5 separate regions of the Homo sapiens genome follow, and regions 1, 2, 3 and 5 are each linked to region 4. Evidence: fine-mapped expression QTL. A gene starts in region 4. Each other region holds a variant in brackets. All regions are shown on one strand. Distances are from middle to middle.

Region 1 (4,120 bases), 32 kb before region 4:
TCAACCACATGAAAAAAAAAATTAAATTCTTACCTTATACTATAAAAAGCAAATTTCAATTTCAAGATTTGACATTCAGAAGTTCTCAAAAACTGTAAGAAGACATTACTGTATGACCTCATGGTAGAGAAGTCTTCTTAAAGATACACACCAAAAAAACCCCATAAAGGATAAGGTATATTGGTTTGTCTTAAAAATTAAGAACACATATTAAAAAAATGCATCATAGGCCAGGCACGGTGGCTTATGCCTGCAATCCCAGCACTTTGGAAGGCCAAGGCAGGTGGATCACCTGAGGTCAGAAGTTCAAGACCAGCCTGGCCAACATGGCGAAACCCCGTCTCTACTAAAAAAAAAAAAAAGGCCAGGCGTGGTGGTGCATGCCTGTAGTCCCAGCTACTCAGGAGGCTGAGGCACAAGAATTGCTTGAACCCGAGAGGTGGAGGTTGCAGTGAGCCAAGATCACGCCATTGCACCCCAGCCTGGGCAACAGAGAGAGACTCTGTCTCCAAAAAAAAAAAAAAAGAAAAAAAGCAAAGAAAATAAAAACTGAATATACCTAAATGCCCACTAATAAACAAAAATGTGCTATATTTAATAGAATAGAGTGGTTATAATTAACTAGATCTATATATATCAACACAGAGATGCCTCCAAGACATAAGTAAAAATAAAGAACACAGATGGCTTGATATTTATTTTTAAAGCACCAAAACAGTACCATCTCCTTCCAGACACTAGGTGAAAATATAAGGAACAGATGAACATTGCAAGCAGATGAACAGGTGAACATATACACAGACTCACTGCAGTGGCTGCCTCTGGAGGGAACAGGACTGTGAGAGCTGGTTAAAGAGAACTCTACTTTTATCTTTATGTTTTGTTTCTTTAAAAAAAAAAGTGGAAAGATGACTTCAGTATGGTGGGAATGGAGATAATTATTGTCTGTCCTTTTTGCTTATTTTTCAAATTTTTATTTACAGTATACTTCCTCTGATGCTCAAACACGTGCCCTGTTTCAATACTGGTAGAAAACTGGTAGTGCTAGACACACTAAGAACAATATAATACTGAATTTTACATATGATTTAAAATGATGTCAAAGTAAATTTTGACTATATGTGACTATAGCCTTAACTGACAACTTTAGTATTAACCCTCTTTAAAGTTGAGACTCACAGCATTTAGCAACATGGTGACTTAAAAGCGAACTACATGTAGAACAGTTTCTTCATTTAGATAAAGATTTCTGAAAGACCAATCTTGTGTATAAAATTAAGTTAATCAAAATCCCTTTTCTCCAGTGCCATCTGGTGGAAAGAAGAGGCAACCTCACCTGTACCTGCCACAAAATAACCACAGCTGTGGTTATCAGAGCAACATTCTCTCCCCCCCAACCACCCCGCCTTCCCTGCCCGCAGAGCACCCTCTGTCATCCCCTCTGTCACCTAGGCTGGAGTGAAGTGGTGCGATCTCGGCTCACTGCAACCTCCACCTCCCGGGTTCAAGCGATTCTCCTGCCTCAACCTCCCAAGTAGCTGGGATTACAGGCGCCTGCTACCACGCCTGGCTTTTTTGTATTTGTAGTAGAGACAGGGTTTCACCATTGTTGGCCAGGCTGGTCTAGAATTCCTGACCTTGTGATCCGCCCGCCTCAGCCTCCCAAAGTGCTGGGATTACAGGTGTGAGCCACTGGGCCCGGCCCAGAGCACCATTCTTTACAAAGAAGGCCCCTCTTTTATTCTGATTACTGTGTGGTGTTCTGTTAACTGTTTACTTTCTTTAGAGCCTTCCTCAAACTGGAAATTCTTCAGCCTACAGGTTAGATAAGAAGCAAGTGGATATTCTTCATTTTTTTGGCTTTCCTGGTTTCCATTGACTTGACTTTGGCAAGGCATTATTTAGAAAAGGCTGTTCTTCTATCTTCTGCTCCAAGATTCTTTCTTTACTGTATTTAAATCAAATGTTTTAACTTCTTCCCCCAGACCATTCTGCAATCATAATCTGTATTCATCCACATTTCAAGCCCTCTAGAATAAAAAATTCCAATAGTTGATTTATACGTAAAACATGTTAGTGTTATTTTGCTTTACATAAACTTATAAGGATTTTTTATTTAAAGGATTTAAAAATATAACACAGTCAATATAAACATGTACTGGGAATTATAAACCATTCTTTCTTCTAAGCACTGGATGAGATACTAAAAACATACAGTATCTTACCAATAGCCATTAAAATAGGCTAAAATGAAAAAGAAACCGTTGTAACAAGGTTACTAATCCCCCAACTTTCAATGCTGAGTTCCTTCATCATCCATGTGCAATCCAGAGATGACATCTAGCAGGGTGGTAAAATTATTCTGGAAAATGCCAACTGTACTT[G/A]GACAAAATAAGTTAATTCTATATGGTTGTCCATTAAAGTTTTATGTGGCTATGGTTCCACTGGAGCTAAAAATTGGCTTTTAACTGTTTCCAAATCAGAACTAGCAGAGGAGAGAAGTAAATAAAGCCAATGGCACTCCCTTCAGAGGCTCAAAATGGTTAGATTTTGATGCAGATTTAACCTTAGCGAGTTTCAGTCAGTCCATTTAGATGATCCTGTAGGTTCATACAAATACACTGAACCGTTGGTTTAACTTCTCTTCCTTCCTCAAAGTTTATGATAAAGAGACTCATCCCTGTATTGGGAGTGACTGACATAAGTTCAGATCTGCTCAGAGTGGCTGGTAAGGAACACTTAAGGTCAGTCAGAAAATAATCAAACAGACTTCTCATGTAAGCACCGTGACTCACAACTAAGACACTGGCTGCTAATCCTGGAATACCGCTGTCTGAATTAACTTTAGAGCTGTGATTTTTTCCTAAAGGAAATATCTCTGCCAAAGAAGTTTCCAGACAGTTGCTTGGAGATCCTTGGGAAAACTGTTCTTTTTGATCCGCTTCTTTCAGGATTAGTTGACAAAGAAATTCAAAAAAGTCTATTCCACGCATTTTCACCTACAAGAAAAGAAATAAAAGTCAAAATAAAGTGACATTAATGACTTCCTTAAAACGTTAACATAGAACATAACTGACTGGATTTTTTTCTAATATTGAATGCCAAGTACTACACAAGCAGAAGAATATCAATCTACATTTCTATTCGTTCAATCAGTAGTTTCATGGACATATATAAGTATCCACCACATTTCTGGAATTACAAAAGCACCATGGAGACCAAGATGAAGAAGATCCAATTCCCAATTCCTGAGTTCAAAGCACTCACGGTCTAGTTAGGGAAATCTACAAGCCAACAGAAACTCATAAAACAGTGCTAACCAGGAAGCTGTCTCTGGCACTTCAGTGCCACTGGAACAACAGCAGCAACAAATCCTTCCCTTACTAAAGTAATGGAAAGTATTTTCAAGAAAATTAAGATAAAGATTAAGGAGGTGGTGGTGGGTTAGGGGGAATCACCAATATGCAATTCGAAGCAGAACACTCCAAAGAAATGCAAGCACAGGGATGCCACCATGAACAGAGCTGAGGAGGCAGCAGAGGCTTGAAGACTTCATGTTTTGAGTTATTTCACCTCGAGTGACTTGCCGATCACCCTCTTTGAACTCCACTCCCACCACTAAGCCACTGCTTCATATTCAAAGGTCTTTTTTAGAAGTACCATCTAATAACACCTTTCCTTAAGTCCATTATCAATAATGACAAAGGCAACTGAACAGTAAATAAGATTTTAAATAGAAAAGAATAATTTGCTAAGTAAATAGATAATTTAAAATGGAAAAGAGAATGAACCAAGCAACTTTCAAACTGCTTAGCTAAAATTCCAAAACATCTAATTTTGAGTCTTAATTCAACCATTCTGACATCGGCAGCGCCACATACCTGGTCCAGCGTCTCTCCTCCGGGCGGTGTAAACACAGGGCACTCTTCCCTGGCTGCTTTGGCCATGGCCCTCAGCTCACTTAGCGCTTTGCCTTCTACAACCCCGTATTTCTGAAACAGTCCAATAGATAACAGTTTCTCAAATGAAATTGCAATATAACAATTAAGTTTATGTTTATGGCAAATTTAGAACATTCATCCCAGGAATAAGCTAACTCTCCTCCACTTAATTGATTCTA
Region 2 (4,120 bases), 79 kb before region 4:
TTCTGCAGAGCTTTCTTCAGCCTCATCTCTAAACCCAGAGCAAACGGAAGGTGGGCATGGAGCTGCCCAGGCACGAATAAGATACAAAGAAATAGCATGGAAAGTATGCAAAAATACTACAGAGGAAAGAAAGAAGGAAGGAAGGGAAAGAAGGGAAGGAAGGAAGGGAAAGAAGGGAAAGGAGGGAAGGAAGGAAGGAAGGAATAGAGGGAGTGAGAGAGGAAGAGAAAAAGCAAAGTAAAAGCAAAGAAGGAATCACAGCATGCAAAAAACAAAGAACCCATTCTGGAAGAAGACATAATCCAAGGAAAAGACGGAAATTCTTCACAAGTGTTTTACAATAGAAAATAAATCTTTAAAGGAACATGAATTTGATTAAAATGAAAACTCAAAGACAAGATGATAAAACAATAGAATAAGAACAAAAGAGAGAAAGACAGAGACAGAGAGGCAGAGAGAGAACCATAGAGGGGCGGAGCGGGGGAGAGAGGAGGAGAGGAAAATTATAGTGCTAAGGAAAGAAATAAGGAGGCAAAGCAATAAATAAAGAAGAAGCAGAACAATACACTTCATGTGAATGTATTTGCCAGTAGAAAGGCTTTAGCTAGTGCCAGTGGATGCAGAAGACAAAGACAAGAACTAAAAGCAATTAGAGAAAAAAACAATAAATCTAAAGGATGGTGAGAGACCACACAACATAAGGTATTTCACGTCCCTGAGGTAAAGAAGCCAAGACATGGACTAGAAACATTAAAAGTATATAATACAAGAATTTTCCTGGAAATACAGAAAGAATCAAATCTACACATACTGGTTTCACGAAAAACTAACATGGAAGCTTCAACACCAAGATATATCCAGTTAATGTACTGAACTTCAAGAATTCCTCAAGCATCTTGAAGATGATATAAAATGTTAAATTAATTACTATAACTCAAGTATTAAAAAAAAAAAGAGAACAGTGCCTGGCACTTAGTAAGGCCTTCCTAAAAAACAAACAAAAGAACAAAAGCTACGCACAAAAGCAATTAATGTACAAGGAGCAAAACCAAGCCGACCTCAGACTTCCAAAAGCAATATTTAATGTCAGAAAACAATGTAGTGATATTTACAAAGTTTCGAGGAAAAGAAAATGGTACCCAAAATTATAACCATCAAGAAGTCATTTAACACAAAGGCAAAAAGAAAAAATAATTTCTAAGTTCTTTCTCTAAAAAGATAGCACCCAGGAATCACACTTGGAGGAAAAATACCTACTTGATTATAAGATTTTATATATTAAACTATAAATCCAAATAAAAATTCAAGAAAGGAGAAACAGTCAAAAAAGTACTGGTGGTAAGAACTGAAACTATTAGATGCTGAAGGAAGACTGAACAATTGTGGAAATTATGATTACAGAACAAATTTCAACAACATAAACTTTGACAATTTTCTGGTAACTTTTGACAGTGTAAAATTAACAATATAATTAACAAAATTAGGGAGTTGTGAGGAGAGAGGACATGTGAGAAATGCTTATTATCTTATTTTTCATAGCGCTTACCCAATTTAAACTGTCTAAATAAGTTTCCAAAAATATATAGCCAATTATTCTAATCTCTTAATGGTTCTCACAATATTTTCATACCTGTTTTCTTAAATGTAGAAGGATTTTAT[TAAAAC/C]AATACCTCTTGTGCAAAGGACACATTTAATAGAAAAGACAAATTTAACTAAATTTCACCAGTTCCTTCAGTTTGATTTCCATTTCTTTTTCTTCTGTTAAATCCAAGTAACATTTAATTAAACATTTGTTTTAAAAAATAGCACAAATAGTATGATCCAATTTTTATAAGTGTGTCTGTTAACATTTTTACCTAATATTCTATCCATAAACATATATATATATGAAATAATGTTCATTCAAGGGTGGATATTTATGGGTGGTACTATGGTTTGAATGTGTTCCCCAGAAAGCATAGGCTGGAAACTTAATCCCCAGTGCAACAGTACTAGGAGGGCTCCATTCTCATAAATGGGTTAATGCCAATTATAAAAAAGCTTGAGGTGTGAGTTCAATCTCTCCCTCCCTCCATCCTTCCTGTCTTCCCTTCCTTTCTTCTTCCTCCCTTCCTCCTCTCTCTCTCTCTTTCCCTCTCTTTTTCTCTCTCCCTCCCCCTGCCCCATGCTCTCTTGCCCTCTTGCCTTTCTGCCTTCTACCATGGAATAACACAGCAAAACAACCCTCACCAGATGCAGGCTCCTCAACCTTGGACTTACCAAACTCCAGAATTATAAGAAATAAATACCTGTTTTTTATAAATTAACCAGTCTCGGGTATTCTGTTATAAGAGAACAAAACGGACTAACAAAGGCACTGAGTGGTTTTTTTTTTTTTTTTTTTTGAGATGGAGTCTCCCTCTGTCATTCAGGCTGGAGTGCAGTGGTGCGATCTCGGCTCACTGCAACCTCCACCTCCCAGGTTCAAGGGATTCCCCTGCTTCAGTCTCCTGGGTAGCTGGGACTACAGGCGTGTGCCACCACGCCTGGCTAATTTTTTGTATTTTTAGTAGAGAAGGGGTTTCACCGTATTAGCCAGAATGGTCTACATCTCCTGACCTCGTGATCCACCCACCTCGGCTTCTCAAAGTGCTGGGATTACAGGCGTGAGCCACCGCGCCCAGCCAAGTGAGTTTTTTTTTTACTTTGTTCTTTTTACTCTTTTTTCTTAAGGTATTATGAGTATTATTTTCACAAAAAATATTATTTAATAAATAAAGATCAGAAGAAAATAAACTAAGCTGTTATCAAATAATCATTAATGTTCAGAAAGATTATGGATTTTTTTACCCCTCTACTTTTCTATATTTTTCAGAGTTGTTCATCTTTCAGATGTCAGCTTAGATGTCATCATTTCTTCCTGATTCTTCACCGATTCCCCTGTCTGGATAGGACCCATTGCCACACCTTCTTATGGGGCTGAATTCTACCCCTATTATAACATTAATCACAGTTTAATGTTACTTATAGAATTGTCTTTCTTCCTTTCTACACATCAATCACTTTGAGAGCGGAGGCCACATCTGTCTTTTTCTTTTCATTGCTAAAGTATCACAAGGCAACTCTACCCAATACATATATACTAAATGAATATATATGCTGAAGTTGTATCACAGAGCAGAGACTACAGCAGCACACAGCAACTGCTTTCTTTTTTGGGGGCGGGGGGGTCAGAGTTTCTCTTTGTCACCCGGGCTGGAGTGCAGTGGTGCGATCTTGGCTCACTGCAACCTTCACCTCCTGGATTTAAGCAATTCTCATGCCTCGGCCTCTCGAGTAATCGGAACTACAGGCGTAAGCCACCACAACCAGCTAATTGTTGTATTTTTAGTAGAGATGGGGTTTCACCATGTTGGCCAGGCTGGTCTCAAACTCCTGGCCTCAAGTGATCCACCTTCCTTGGCCTCCCAAAGTGCTGGGATTATAGGTGTGAGCCACTGTGCCCAGCCTAAATATATATTAAGTGAATATATATATTGAAATTGTATCACAGAACAAAGACAACAAACAGCAGCACACGGCAACTGCTTTTTATTTTCTAAGTCGAATCCTCTGGTTTTGCCAAACCCGTCAGGCTATAAGGTACATGGGCCAGGCATGGTGGCTCATGCCTGTAATCCCAGCACTTTGGGAGGTCAAGGCAGGTGGATCACTTGAGCCCAGGAATTCTAGACAACCTGGCCAACATGGCAAAACCCCGTCTCTACTAAAAATACAAAAATTTGCTGGCTGTGGTGGTGCACACCTGTGGTCCCAGCTGCTCGGGAGGCTGAGGTAGGAGGACAATCTGAGCCTGGGGAGGGAGATGGAAGCTGTAGTGAGCCATGATAGCACCATCCTGAGCAACAGTAAAAACTTGTCTCAAAAAAAAAAAGTTACATGGACATTTTAAGGAGGAAATCATTTTTAAACTCAAAATGTAGTTCCTAGTTTTCCATTTCCCTGATTGAAAAGACAGTCATGAATTATCCTATAAACACTCCCGAAACCGACCCAAATAATTTTGGAAAAATGGAAGTAAATAAATGAAGCAATACTTCTCCAAAAAATTTCTTTTGGTGGTCTGATGATTACAGCATTT
Region 3 (4,120 bases), 710 kb before region 4:
TCACCTCGTTATGGACATTTGTAAAGATTCAGGCTCACCCAGGGCCTTCCTTTGGGGGAACTCTGAGCCCCTGAGCCCATCATCTCAGCTTTCACAGGAAAGAGGAGACAGGCTAGGATGAGAAGTCCGAATCTCTGAAGGAAAGGGCAGCAATACATGGTGATGGGTGTGAATTCTGACTCTGCAAAACTTACTGGCTGTGTGACCTGGGGCAAAACACTTAGCTTCCCTGTCCCTTCACTTCCTTCTCTGTAAAATGGCACTAATCCTATTACTACTATATTAATAGTAGTAATATAACAGAGTTGCTGTAAAGATTAAATTAGTTAATATTTGTAAACTGCTCAGACCAGTGTCTGGCACAAAACAGGCCCTATGTGTTTATTAATAAATGAAATTTTAAAGATAGATTTCATGCCAGGAAGAGGGCCCAACACATTCCTCTTTAGAAAGACTATAAATAGAGCCAACCAAAGGACACAGGAATTTCCTGTGAGTTAGGAAGCTGTAGGGGCTATGCAGCGAGGCAGAGGGAAAGATCACAAGCTTTGGAGTAGAAAAATCTGGGTTTGGATCCCATGACACTATTTATGCTCTGTGTTACCTAGAGCAAGTCCTATAACTTTTCTGAGCCTCATGTCTCTCATTTGAAAGAGGAGAAGATGGCATCCAGCCCGCCAGGTTATCACCCAGATTGATGATACATGAAAAGTAACTGGGACCCCACAAGCCCCAGTCAGGGTTTGCTCCGTTGCCATCATTCTTATCATTGTCCATCTACCGAGTAGGAAAACACAGGAAGACCATGTAACCTTTGTCAGCTACTCTCTCCACTCCAGTTTTCATGCAGGTACACATACTGCCTCAGGACATCTTTCCTTTTTTTTTTTTTTTTTCTTGAGATGGAGTAGTCACCCAGGCTGGAGTGCGGTGGTGCGATCTTGGCTCACTGCAACCTTGCCCTCCCTGGTTCAAGCGATTCTCTTGCCTCAGCTTCCCGAGTAGCTGGGACTACAGGCGTGTGCCACGACACCCAGCTAATTTTTTGTATTTTTAGTACAGACGCGGTTTCACCGTGTTAGCCAAGATGGTCTCAATCTCCTGACCTTGTGATCAGCCCGCCTCGGCCTCCAAAATGCTGGGATTACAGGCATGAGCCACCACGTCTGGGTCATTTTTTTTTTTCTTAAGAGATGAGGTCTCACTCTTGTTGCCTGGGCTGAACTGCAGTGGCCTTGTCCCCATTTCTTACTCCAGGTTTTCAGTGAGTCTGTGAAGCTTGTGTACATTGCAAGGAGGCTGTATTGGTCAGGGTGCAAGCAGAAACGCAGAACCTCTAAGAGGTATGTGTAGTAAATAATCAATTACAGGGACTCGACCCTATGCAATCCCGGGAGCTGGTTGAGAGTCTCTATAGGGCTACTGTCTTTCTGTCAGATGCTGGAACTCCAGGGCCCCAGGGAATGCATCAAGAAGGGAAAGTGGGAACCAGAGCCGCAGCCGGTGCTGGCATTGGTGCTGGAACTGAGGCTGGGACCGCTGCCGGGGCTGGGGCTGGCGTGGCTGGAGGAGCACTTGCTGGTACCGCCGGTGTGGCCATCTTGTGGAGAAAGAAAGCCTGGGAGGACCATGGCAGTGATGTTCACACCTCTGACAGTGAAATATGTATACTGTGACACTGAACGCATTGGAGTTGACCTGATCGTGAAGACCTGCTTTAGCCCCAACAGAGTGATTGGACTCTCAGGTGACTTGCAGCAAGTAGGAGGGGCATCCGCTCGCATCCGGGATGCCTTGAGCAGAGTGTTGCAATATGCAGAGGATGTACTCTCTGGAAAGGTGTCGGTTGGCCGCTTCCTGGTGAACCTGGTTAACCAAGTACCCAAAATAGTTCCCGATGACTTCGAGATCATGCTCAACGGTAACATCAACGACCTGTTGATGGTGACCTACCTGGCCAACCTCACACAGTCACAGATTGCCCTCAGTGAAAAACTTGTAAACCTGTGAATGGAGCCCAAGCAGTACGCCTGCTGGTCTAGGTCTTAACCCCAGGACTCAGAAGTGAAGGAGAAATGGGTTTTTCGTGGTCTTGAGTCACACTGAGACAGTCAACTGTGTGTGACTCTAATAAACATGGCCTACTTTTTGTAA[A/C]TTAAAAAAAAAAAGAAGGGAAAGTGGATGTAATGTGGGAGAAGGCAAAGACAAGCTGGGCCCCTCAGGGCAGAATGGAGCCCATATCTCTGTCCTCACTGCCTCCAACCCTGATGACGTGCTTGTCCTAAAGGGGAAGGTGGCTCCCTCTGTCATGGAGCTAAAACACATACCTGGTCCAGGAATCAGAGAAGCTGGTGAAGGATTCAGAGAAAAGCAGAACATGTGCAGGCCCACCTGCCGCCACCCCAAGGGCATGAGTCACAGATCAGTGACAATGTGCCTGAGCTGCAGAAGCACCTGCCCCACCTTCTGACAGTGAAAAGTAACACGGCTGCCACTTCACTTTTGTCCTTCAAATTTCAAGCAAAAATGTCTCTTATTCCCCACTCTAACTGGGAACTTGCAGGGAAAAGAATTCTGGGAAACATATTTCAGCCTGGCCCACTTGACACATTACAAAGCCGCCACAGCAATTGTTGAAAAACCTAGACGAGCCCCTTACAGTGAGTTCACATATTCACAAGCTGCAAGGTTCTCAACTCTAATATAAAAACATAACTTTTTTTTATAACTGTTTCATCTATTTTGTGCCACATTCAGTCCCTGCAAAGGCTCTTCAAAGAAAGAGGCTGTATAGTGTATACTGAGGTACTAGTCATAGACATTTAGGTGTCTAATTGAAGTGTAACAGTGATTTTTTTTTAGGGAACATGTAGGAAATGTGTTTCTACACTAAGCTAAGAATCCTTGCTATCTGAGGCAGGGCTAAAAGGCATCCGAATTCACAATAGAGTGGAGGAGAAAGTCATAAACATCATCAGTGACCTTGGGGCCAGTTGTAGAAACCAGGAAATGGTGGAGCAGAAGGACCAGGAGGTACCAGTAATGAGGAATGAGTTACAGAAACATGACTGTAGGCAATTATGGAGACCGCTGGACAGTCTTTAGAAGTCTGCTGTCTTCAGGTCTGATTCTGGAGCTCTGAAAGACGCACCTGTGTTTCGTTTTTGGCTCTTTGAGAATCTGAATACGCATACATACCGTTTTTTTCCTCTTCTTTTAAAAGTAGTCTATTTTTACCTTTCTTTCCTCTGCATCTTCTCCCTTTTCCCCTCTTCTCATCCTGATCCCATCTTGATATTTTGCAACCAGAGAACTGAATGGTAACTTTGATTGCCACAGAAGCACTATATTTGTAAAAGAAAGAGGGGAGGCAAAGACACAGGATGGCGGTAGATAGCAGAATATAGAAGCCTAGTATCAATTTTTTTAGTAGGATAAGTTACATTACAAGATAGGATTCAGTTCCAGGGTGTGCGAACTGCCCTATAAGAAGAAATTATTTTCGTCTTGACCCAGTCCATTAGGACACAGAGCCCCAGATAGGGAGTCAAGAAGCCGAGGTCCCAACCCTAGCTCTGTCAATATATTAATTCTTGACAAGTCTCTTCATTTATGGAGTGCATTTTGTTCAATGACTAATAAGAGTCATTAGATATTAAGGTCAACTGAAACTTGATAGAGCTGTAGTTCAAAGATAGCTACCACTCGGTACTATCAATGTACTGTTGCTATAGATGTGAAGACTATTATTGGCCTCCCCTGACAAACAGTCTCTGCTTGGCCAAACTTTAATCAGGCTTCGAACCTTCTCCTAGGTCCATCTGTGTACTCCTAAGTCTAGTTTTAGCAAATAATCTCCCATTCTTGATACCTGATCACCCTTCACTTCTGATAAGGTTCTTCGTCCTCCACTATGTTGTAACCAAAACACAGGTCAGTTTCTTGCCACATGCAGAATCCAATGAACAAGAGTAAGACTTGGTACAAAAATAGTGAATTTATTCCGAAGTGAGCTTGGGGAAGGGGCACAAAACTTCTTGCCTTTAAATGTGCTGCTTCACCTCTGGAGCAGATAACAGACACTTTTACAAGGTAAGGGGGAAAGTGAGCAAGGGCAGGG
Region 4 (4,120 bases):
GGCGTCTAGAAAGTGCACTAACATTGGAAGAAAGGGTGATCAGGCCTCTAGTTCCTGTTCTGCTACCGATTAGCTGTGTGACCTTTAGTAAGTTAAGAATTCTCCCAAGGCATTCTATACAACCGAGAGGGGTGGGAGAAGAGATAGTGAGGAACTAGATTTCTAAGGTAGCCATTAAAATCCTGCTAATCCTAAACAGACAATTTTAGAGGATTCTTAAGATTATCTTTCTTATAAAGGAAGGACAGGCCAGAAAAGATAGCTGTTAAAGTCAATTGACAAAGTTAAATCATATTAATGTCCTTTGTGAGCTCCATGAATGCAGAAATGGTATGTTATTTATCTGTATGATCCAGTCTACTGGCACACATTACCTACTCAAAATGCTGGTGTGCTGAACTATACGTTCGTATTTGGGAATCAACTGCACTTTTATTGGAGCTTTCTTTATAGAAGTTATTTCTCAGATATATTTCTTTCCCTGTTGCATCATACACTTTACCTGTCCCCCATTTAATTCTCGCATTAAAGTAGTGAGATACGCACTATCATTTGCATATCAGGAAACTTAAGTCCAGGCTACCTGGCTCTTAGCTGGAGAACAGACTCCAACCGAGGTCTACCTTGCCTGAAAAATCTGTGCTCTTAGCAGGGCGCGGTGGCTCATGCCTGTAATCCCAACACTTTGCGAGGCCGAGGTAGTCGGATCACTTAAGGTCAGGAGTTCCAGACCTGCCTGACCAACATGGCGAAACCCTGTCTCTACTAAAAATACAAAAATTAGCCGGGCGTGGTGGCGCATGCCTGTAATCCCAGCTACTCGGGAGGCTGAAGCAGGAGAATCGCTTGAACCCCGGAGGCGGGAGGTTGCAGTGAGCAGAGATAGCGCCACTGCACTCCAGCCTGGGTGACAGAGCGAGGCTCCATCTCACAAAAAAAAAAAAATAAAAATAAAAATCTGTGCTCTTAACTACCCTGATTTTCACCTCCCGTTAACACTTGGCAAATACATAAAGACCTATCAGCATGCAGCTCCGTGTAACGTTATGATAATAAAAACATTTATTTGGGATGATACGGTCTGCTGAGATCAGAGCTGTGATCCTCTTTTCTCTCCCAGAACTGTAACCTCTGGGGAAAAGAAAGAAGTCTCATATATGTGCCTGGGGGGCTGACTGCCTGGGGAAACGAGGGGGAACCTCAGAAACTGAGAGGATAGCGGAAGGCAGCCGGCATCAAAAACATCAGCCATGGACGAGCAATTCTGCAAACTCTTTGCAATCTGCTGGGGAGCAAAATCGGTACCCAGACAAGTCTGTGGACATGTCTGGCACCGTTTTTGGTGCAGCCACCAAGTGCCTACGAACCCCGATCCCTTGCTCCTCCGGGCCTCACTTTATCTGAAACACGGAACGAAGCTATCTAAGACCTGCCGTCGTCCCTCGGGGCTGCTGGGGTGAGAGGAGGGGCGACACGGGACGGCCCCAGGGCAAGCGCCCCGGAAAAAGCGCTTCCAAGCCAGCCCTCCCGGGCTGGAGCGAGCAGGGAGGGGAGAGGGTGGTGGACCCGTTTTCCCTTCACCCGCTCCAACACACTCAAGGAAGAGAGAGAGAAAGACATCCTGCCACAGCCATACTCACTGCCGGACAACAGTCAGAGCGAAGCGAGCCATGTTCCCGGAGCCGCGTCCCGTCGGTGGCCCCGCGCCGCGCTGCCCCTGCACTGCGGGCTACCTCCCCCACACCACTTCCGCCAAGCAGCCGGCCGGCTCCGCCGCCATAGGCCGAGGCGGCCTCGCACGTCATCCCCGAAGGCCACTCAGGGCCGGGCGAGGCCGACGGGGCGGGGGAGACGAGGGAGCCACGGGGGCCCCGCCCAGGGCTGCGGCGCTTGCGCCCCTGCGCGCCGGCCTGTGATTGGCGCGCGGCAGGTGCGGGAGGCCCCGCCCGCGGAGTCCGCGGTAGGATTCCTTCCCTCGATAGCCGGCAGCCTGCGTTCGGGGCAGATAAGGAAGCCGGCGCACTGATTTGTGGTTGTTGCGATTGAGGCTGGAATGCAACCGTTCGTCTTATAGCTGGCCACTGTGATGAACCCCTCACGGGTGTACAGCGACCAACAGACTGTGTTCTATGAGGTCTGTTAGTCCCTAACCTTAGGGACGTAGCGTCGGCCAGGTCTGTAGACTTAGACCCACCCACCCCAACTCCGCCGGGACAGACGCCCTCCGTGACCAAACTTTAGTCGGGCTCCTTTGAGGCCTTTTCTATACTAGACGGCATCCTCGGCCTGCTGAGCCTGGTTTTACCAAAGAATCCTGCTAAGCCTGTTTATCAAGAGAGACCTCACTGTTGATGCTCTCTTCTAAGGCCCTTGATATCTAGTAAAGTTCCTCCTCCCCCTCCCCCAGATAGCTTACCACGTTCTGGTAATTTCCCATCTTCTCTTTCATCCCTTCCATCCCGCCCCCTGGCTATAAATCTCCACTGGTCCCGGTTGTATTCTAGAGTCGAATTCAGTCTCTCTCACCTATTGCAGTAGTCTTGAGTAAAGTCTTGCCGTTTTTAACAAGCCTCAGATGAATAATTTCTCTTTAATAGCCTTCAGAACGTTGAGGGAGTTGCTTCATGTTAGATATGAGTTCTAAATTTCTTTTCAAAGAATCAATATGTCAGTATGTTCAATTCTTTGCTTTTTACTTTTAAACTTAACTTCCTCCTAAAGCAACCTTCTCTTTTTTATTTATTTATTTATTTTTTTGAGATGGAGTCTGGCTCTGTCACCCAGGCTGGAGTGCAGTGGTGTGATCTCGGCTCACTGCAAGCTCCGCCTCCCGGGTTCACGCCATTCTGGCTCAGCCTCCCGAGTAGCTGGGACTACAGGCGCCTGCCACCACGCCCGGCTAATTTTTTGTATTTTTAGTAGAGACAGGGTTTCACCGTGTTAGCCAGGATGGTCTCGATCTCCTGACCTCGTGATCCGCCCGCCTCGACCTCCCAAAGTGGTGGGATTACAGGCGTGAGCCACCGCGCCCGGCCACAACCTTTTTCGATTACCTGCTGCACTCTGACTCCTTCCCATTACCTACTCCACCCTGACTCCTTCCCATTACCTACTCCACCCTGACTCCTTCCCATTACCTACGCCACCCTGACTCAGATTACCTGCTCTGTCATAACTGTTTTTCCCGCCAAACCACTCACCCCCATCACTCTCTTTAGATTAGCCAATCGGAATTAGTTTAGCCTGTGCGGTGGGGCACTACACAGCAGCAGGGGCCACGTGCGTCAGGGATAAGAACCCCTTCCCCTCCCTTGTCCAAGTGTGCGCTCACCATTGCTCCATCTGTAAGGACGCACCCTTCTATAGAAGTACCTTGCCTTGCTGAGAATTAAAAAGAAAATTTTATATTCGAGTGCTATTTCTTTTGTGGCACTGAAAGTTTATTTATAACATGAGCTTCTCTAACCCTGGGTTTTGTGACAGGTAAACTGGGATAGCAGTACCTAGCAATGTGACACAAGTAACAATAATGTTAGCTAGGTGACATTGTCTTCCATGCACTGTTACCTAAATTCTTGTATTTCATAATGCATTTATTTCCTTGAATCCCCACTTATATATGAAAAGATGTGTTTAGAGAAGAGATGAATGAGATACTTAGATTCATAGGCACACATTTCAAAACAGTCTTACATGTAATATCACATTTGGCCTTCTGAACAATTCTAAGGTAGACAGGATAGGCTACATTATCTTCACTTTAGAGATGAGAAATATGGCCGGGCATGGTGGCTCACGCCTGTAATCCCAGCACTTTGGGAGGCCAAGGCAGGTCAGGAGAATCTGCAGGTCAGGAGATAGAGACCATTTTGGCTAACACGGTGAAACCCCATCTCTACTAAAAATACAAAAAATTAGCCGGGCATGGTGGCACGTGCCTGTAGTCGCAGCTACTAGGGAGGCTGAGGCAGGAGAATCGTTTGAACCCGGGAGGCAGAGGTTGCAGTGAGCCGAGATTCCAACACTGCACTCCAGCCTGGGTGACAGAGCAAGACCCCATCTCAAAAAAAAAAAAAAAGAAATATGGCCGAGAGAGAGACAGCGATTTGTCTAGGCTCAC
Region 5 (4,120 bases), 32 kb after region 4:
CGGACTGACTTGCCTGCGGTCTCGAAAAGCCAAGAGACTCAGCAGCAACTCCCAGGAGGGAAATTTCCACCACTGTCCATGTGAGATCAGTAACGGGGGACAAAGGGAGGTGGGAAAAGGCTGGAGCCGGTAGGGTGGTCAGCCCATCAGAGCAGGTCTATCAACATCGGGGGAAAAGGTTACAATGCCTGGGGGCAGGAGGAGGGGGGTGGCCGCTTCCAACTCCTGTCACTGACATTTTTGTCTCCAGGCATTGAGGAAGGGCTTGTCTTAAACTGGCTGAGAGTCCTATTTGTAAGGCAGCCTTAATTGGAGACATTCAGAAAAGGAGGAAAGCGTACCATTTCTATAAACGTTAAGTCCCGTCCACGATTTTCCTCTGGAGGATTAGAAAAGCATTCTTCATGCTGCACTGGAGGGAGGTTTTCAGTCTGTGTTCTGGAGTCCTCGTTTAAAAAGCGTATGTTTGGAGCCCGCATTTTAAAACCATATCTACGAACTATCTCAGAGGAGGACCCCGGATTTGCTCCGTCAGCATCTCCCTGCGCCATTTCTCTGAGCTGGGAACAAATGCCAGGGAAAATCCAGGTGGGCGGGCGAGGAGGCCGGCGAGCTGCAGCCGTGGGCTCTCTGAGGTTTAACCTGTCCCGTATCCCTCGTGCAGGCCTCAGCCATAGGCCTATAAACCACATGATCCCTTAACTCAATAAAAGCCCGCAGAGGGCATCTGAATCCCCCCGGACCATCCAGAGGGTGTCATCGTGAAGTGCCCAGCATTCTTCAGCCTCTCCATGGTGATGCATGAGGGCTCAGGGCCAACACCCCTCTCTCAGGTTGACTTTAAACCCCAGGGTTTTTTTTCAAACCAAAAGATCCCAGGAGCGGCAACAAGGGTGGAGTGGGAAGTTTCCAGGGGGCAGTCGGAGCCTGGGGGTTCTAGCCCCAGCTCAGCCACTGCCCACCCCGCTCCTGGCTGGTTACTTCAGTCCCTGTCCTGCCCGTGGAAAACGAAGGAATGGCCTCTCTGACCTCTTGGCACCATCCTGTCTCGGACGGGCTAGGACTGCAGCTTCCTGCTGATTGAATTCAGAGGCTCACTTGACCCTGGTCTCTCTCAAAACCTTTCTTCTCAGGAGCTCCAAATTCTGGCAACAGGAAGTTAACAGCCTCTGGGCCGTCCACAGGGCACACAGAATGGGGAAGCTCCGTAGCTAATAATAGTTTCTTGAGTTTGTATGGCACTTTGTCTTTTGAAAGCACTTTGTAATCCATTACTGCATTGAACAAAAGGGAAGAGAGAGCGGGGAGGGGTCGAGAGGTTTGCCAGGGACGGACACCGTTCTCACAGTGGGGCACCTCTTGTGTGTCTGCTCCATCCACTGCAGCTGAGTCCTGGCTCTCCTTTCTCCTCTGTGCGCCTTACAGCCTCAGCGTGTGAAAGCAGACACGGCAGCTCTTCGCTGCCGGGCAGAGGCAGCCTGGCAGCGTGTACAAATATGGCAATGAAGCAACAATTCAGACCCACTGAGAAGCCCACGCCATAAAGGAACATCGGTAAACAGCCCTCCCACCCCCACCCCCTTCATCTGCTTGCTGAGTTTTCTTC[CG/G]TATTTTCCCGTGCACAGCTTTTCAGAACCTTAAGAGGGGGTGTCACCTGCTGAACTTTGCACTCCCTTGGATGTCGATCTTAGGAAACAAACCAGAAAAATACCTCTGACACAACATAATCAAATCCGTCGTCTCCTTCCCTGAGCTGAGAAGAGACATCTGGACTTAGCCAAGAAGGTGGTGGCCACCTACCACGTCTGTGTTGGTGATCTTAGCCAGCAGCTCAGTCAGGGCATCACAAGTGAGCGAGCTCACTTCCTCATCCTGCTGGAGCCCACAGATGGCTGCTCCCACACTTCCAGTTGCGATCATCGACGGTGGGTACATGGCAAACTTAAAGTCTGCAAGGAATGAGAGGCAGAAGGTCAGGGCACAGAACGAATTTGGATCCTGGAGCTCCCGAGACTGCAGAGACTCAGAAACAGGACGGCAGCAGGTCAGCGGCGCGAGTGACCCCGTGCCCTACAGGCATGTCCTCCCTCGAGTTCTTTCACAAGGAGCCTGTGTTTATTTGCCATCACCATGGCTGTTCCAGATTAAACGAAGGAGACTGAGGCAGGGAAGGAAGACAGCTTATCTAAGCGCACACAATGAATGCACAGAGGATTCAAGGTCCCCAATCCCCAGATCCCAGTCATATTAAGCATGTCTGAGTTAACATTCTTGACCCTGGTGGGGGGAGCAAGGTGAGCGAGTCATAGTCTCCTCTAGAGGTGATGGTGGGAACAGAGCAGAGAATGCCTGAGACCAGTGCAGACAAGGTACCCCATGGGCCATGCAAGCAGGACAGACCAGGGGCTCCAGATGTGAGAAGGAGGGAAAGTACAAGGAGATGGGAGAAACGGGCAAAATCTATGCATAATGCTAATTCAGATGGGATCTTGTTATAGTCTCTGGACAGGCATTGAGGATTAATATGACCCCCACCCAAAAAAAAAAAAAAAAGGTTTGATCTAAAAAAGGAAATGAGAGAAGCAGCAATGCAGGGAGTGGGCGAGTGGGGGCTGAGTTCCACCCAGTTCCCAACCTCTGGCCCAACAGCAAGAACCCTCAGAACATTAGGGCAGAGGATTCTAACCCTAACATAGGGCTCTAACTAAGCACTGAAGATTAATCATTGCATCCGAATCAGATGGGTGACTCGGTTTCGATGTTATGACTCATGAGACTGAAGGCCCCATTTTATTGCTAAGAGAAAAAAATGTGACTTGCTACAGGGAAGTGCAGAATGAGGATAATAAATCAGAGGGGCTTGAACCCCGTCCACTGCCATGCTAGAGGGCTCCTCTTGGAAGACCAGCCCCCTTGTGTTCCTCCGAGCACTCCTTCAGAGGGGCTGGGTGGCCATGATCCAGCAGCTGCTTGGTCCATCGAGGGGAAATAAAGACAGCCAACTTCTCCTGTTACAGCTGCTGACAGCTACCAATGACCACCACATGCAGTACGCTACACATTACGTCCTGTTTAATTTACCCATCAGCCACAGAAGATGCACACGAGCGTCACCCTAATGGTATGGGTGAGAACCCTGAGACTTTTGAGAGTTTAAGTTGCCCCTGCTCGTGTTGACAGATATTAGGGTGGGTATAGTTGCAGCCATCACGCTAGTGACGGTCCTGGAGTGCAGCAAGTCTTCCAAAGCGTACTCTTTCTCGTTTTAGCATTGCTCTAGTGAGCTTACTGTGTGTAGACATGGAAGGGGCACGTGGGGGCAGGAGACACAGCATACAGGGAACCGTGGGTCACCCTTCAACTTACAGCAAAAACAATCAGGTTAAATCTACAAAAACCAGCCCCTCTCCTATTTCCCCTTCCTCCTGTACACACTCTATTACAAACACACTTTCTACAGCAGCTCTTTTAATGGTCAGCCCATTGCCCCAGCATCAAGTTAGCAGCATTGTTAGACACCGTGGATCCCTGAGCCAAGCACAGCCCTCCCCTCCCATCATGAACGCAGAGCAAACCTGGCCATCTGCCTGTCTCCTTGGCTTTTTCTCCATTGCCCTCTCACCATCTCCACCTCTTGAGGGACGTATATAATGGTGCTGCGCCCACGCCTGCTGTCCACCCGCCCCTCCTACGCCTTCTCTGTCGCCATGAACAGTGTGACAAAGCCAGCCTCCCTGCCTCTTGCTCTGCTGTAGGTCTCTTCCACATGGGTCACAGGAGAGTGTTTCTCTGCCCAATAACCTCGTTAGCTCCCCCCTGTGACATTCATAACACAAGCGGGGCAGCCGGCCCATGGCCCTGGGCCCACAAAGGCCCGGGTGGGAGCATCTGCCAGGGAAGAGGCAGGCAAGTATCCCCGGCCCTCCCTTCCCTCTGCCATAGGCCTCAGACCGGGAAGCACACCTCACACATGCCCATCTCTGCTGTCCCACTGCTAGCAAAACCAACTCTTATTATTGGCATACGAATGAACTTCTGGAAGCCAGCAGGCATAGGGGGAACAGGTGCACCGGTTGCACAGGGAGACTCTACCTCCCTTTTTGTTTTACTAAGAAGATTT

What was found.
Region 1: its variant is fine-mapped to the expression of TIGAR in whole blood (TOPMed, PIP above 0.99). The same link has a PIP of 0.9 or more in aorta, blood mononuclear cells, esophagus mucosa, esophagus muscle, hypothalamus and nucleus accumbens.
Region 2: its variant is fine-mapped to the expression of TIGAR in whole blood (INTERVAL, PIP 0.91).
Region 3: its variant is fine-mapped to the expression of TIGAR in coronary artery (GTEx, PIP 0.94).
Region 5: its variant is fine-mapped to the expression of TIGAR in whole blood (TOPMed, PIP above 0.99).

Annotation. Positions count from the first base shown.
Region 1 is chr12:4,351,139-4,355,258 of GRCh38, reverse strand. It overlaps TIGAR (TP53 induced glycolysis regulatory phosphatase), which reads right to left. Exons shown (of 6, transcript NM_020375.3): 5 at 3,882-3,992; 6 at 1-2,999. The coding sequence ends at 2,568. Among named protein-coding and RNA genes, the nearest start is that of FGF23, 27 kb to the left of the region's middle. The variant G/A (reference allele first, on the strand shown) is at 2,385.
Region 2 is chr12:4,397,378-4,401,497 of GRCh38, reverse strand. No RefSeq gene overlaps it. Among named protein-coding and RNA genes, the nearest start is that of FGF23, 20 kb to the right of the region's middle. The variant TAAAAC/C (reference allele first, on the strand shown) is at 1,660.
Region 3 is chr12:5,030,439-5,034,558 of GRCh38, reverse strand. It overlaps the pseudogene LOC390282. Among named protein-coding and RNA genes, the nearest start is that of KCNA5, 11 kb to the left of the region's middle. RefSeq lists enhancers at 1-146, 1,007-1,506. The variant A/C (reference allele first, on the strand shown) is at 2,155.
Region 4 is chr12:4,318,824-4,322,943 of GRCh38, reverse strand. It overlaps TIGAR (TP53 induced glycolysis regulatory phosphatase), which reads right to left and starts at 1,731. Exons shown (of 6, transcript NM_020375.3): 1 at 1,641-1,731. The coding sequence starts at 1,672. RefSeq lists a silencer at 1,641-2,020 and an enhancer at 1,486-2,139.
Region 5 is chr12:4,286,671-4,290,790 of GRCh38, reverse strand. CCND2 (cyclin D2) reads right to left here. Exons shown (of 5, transcript NM_001759.4): 4 at 1,801-1,949. Among named protein-coding and RNA genes, the nearest start is that of CCND2-AS1, 13 kb to the right of the region's middle. The variant CG/G (reference allele first, on the strand shown) is at 1,607.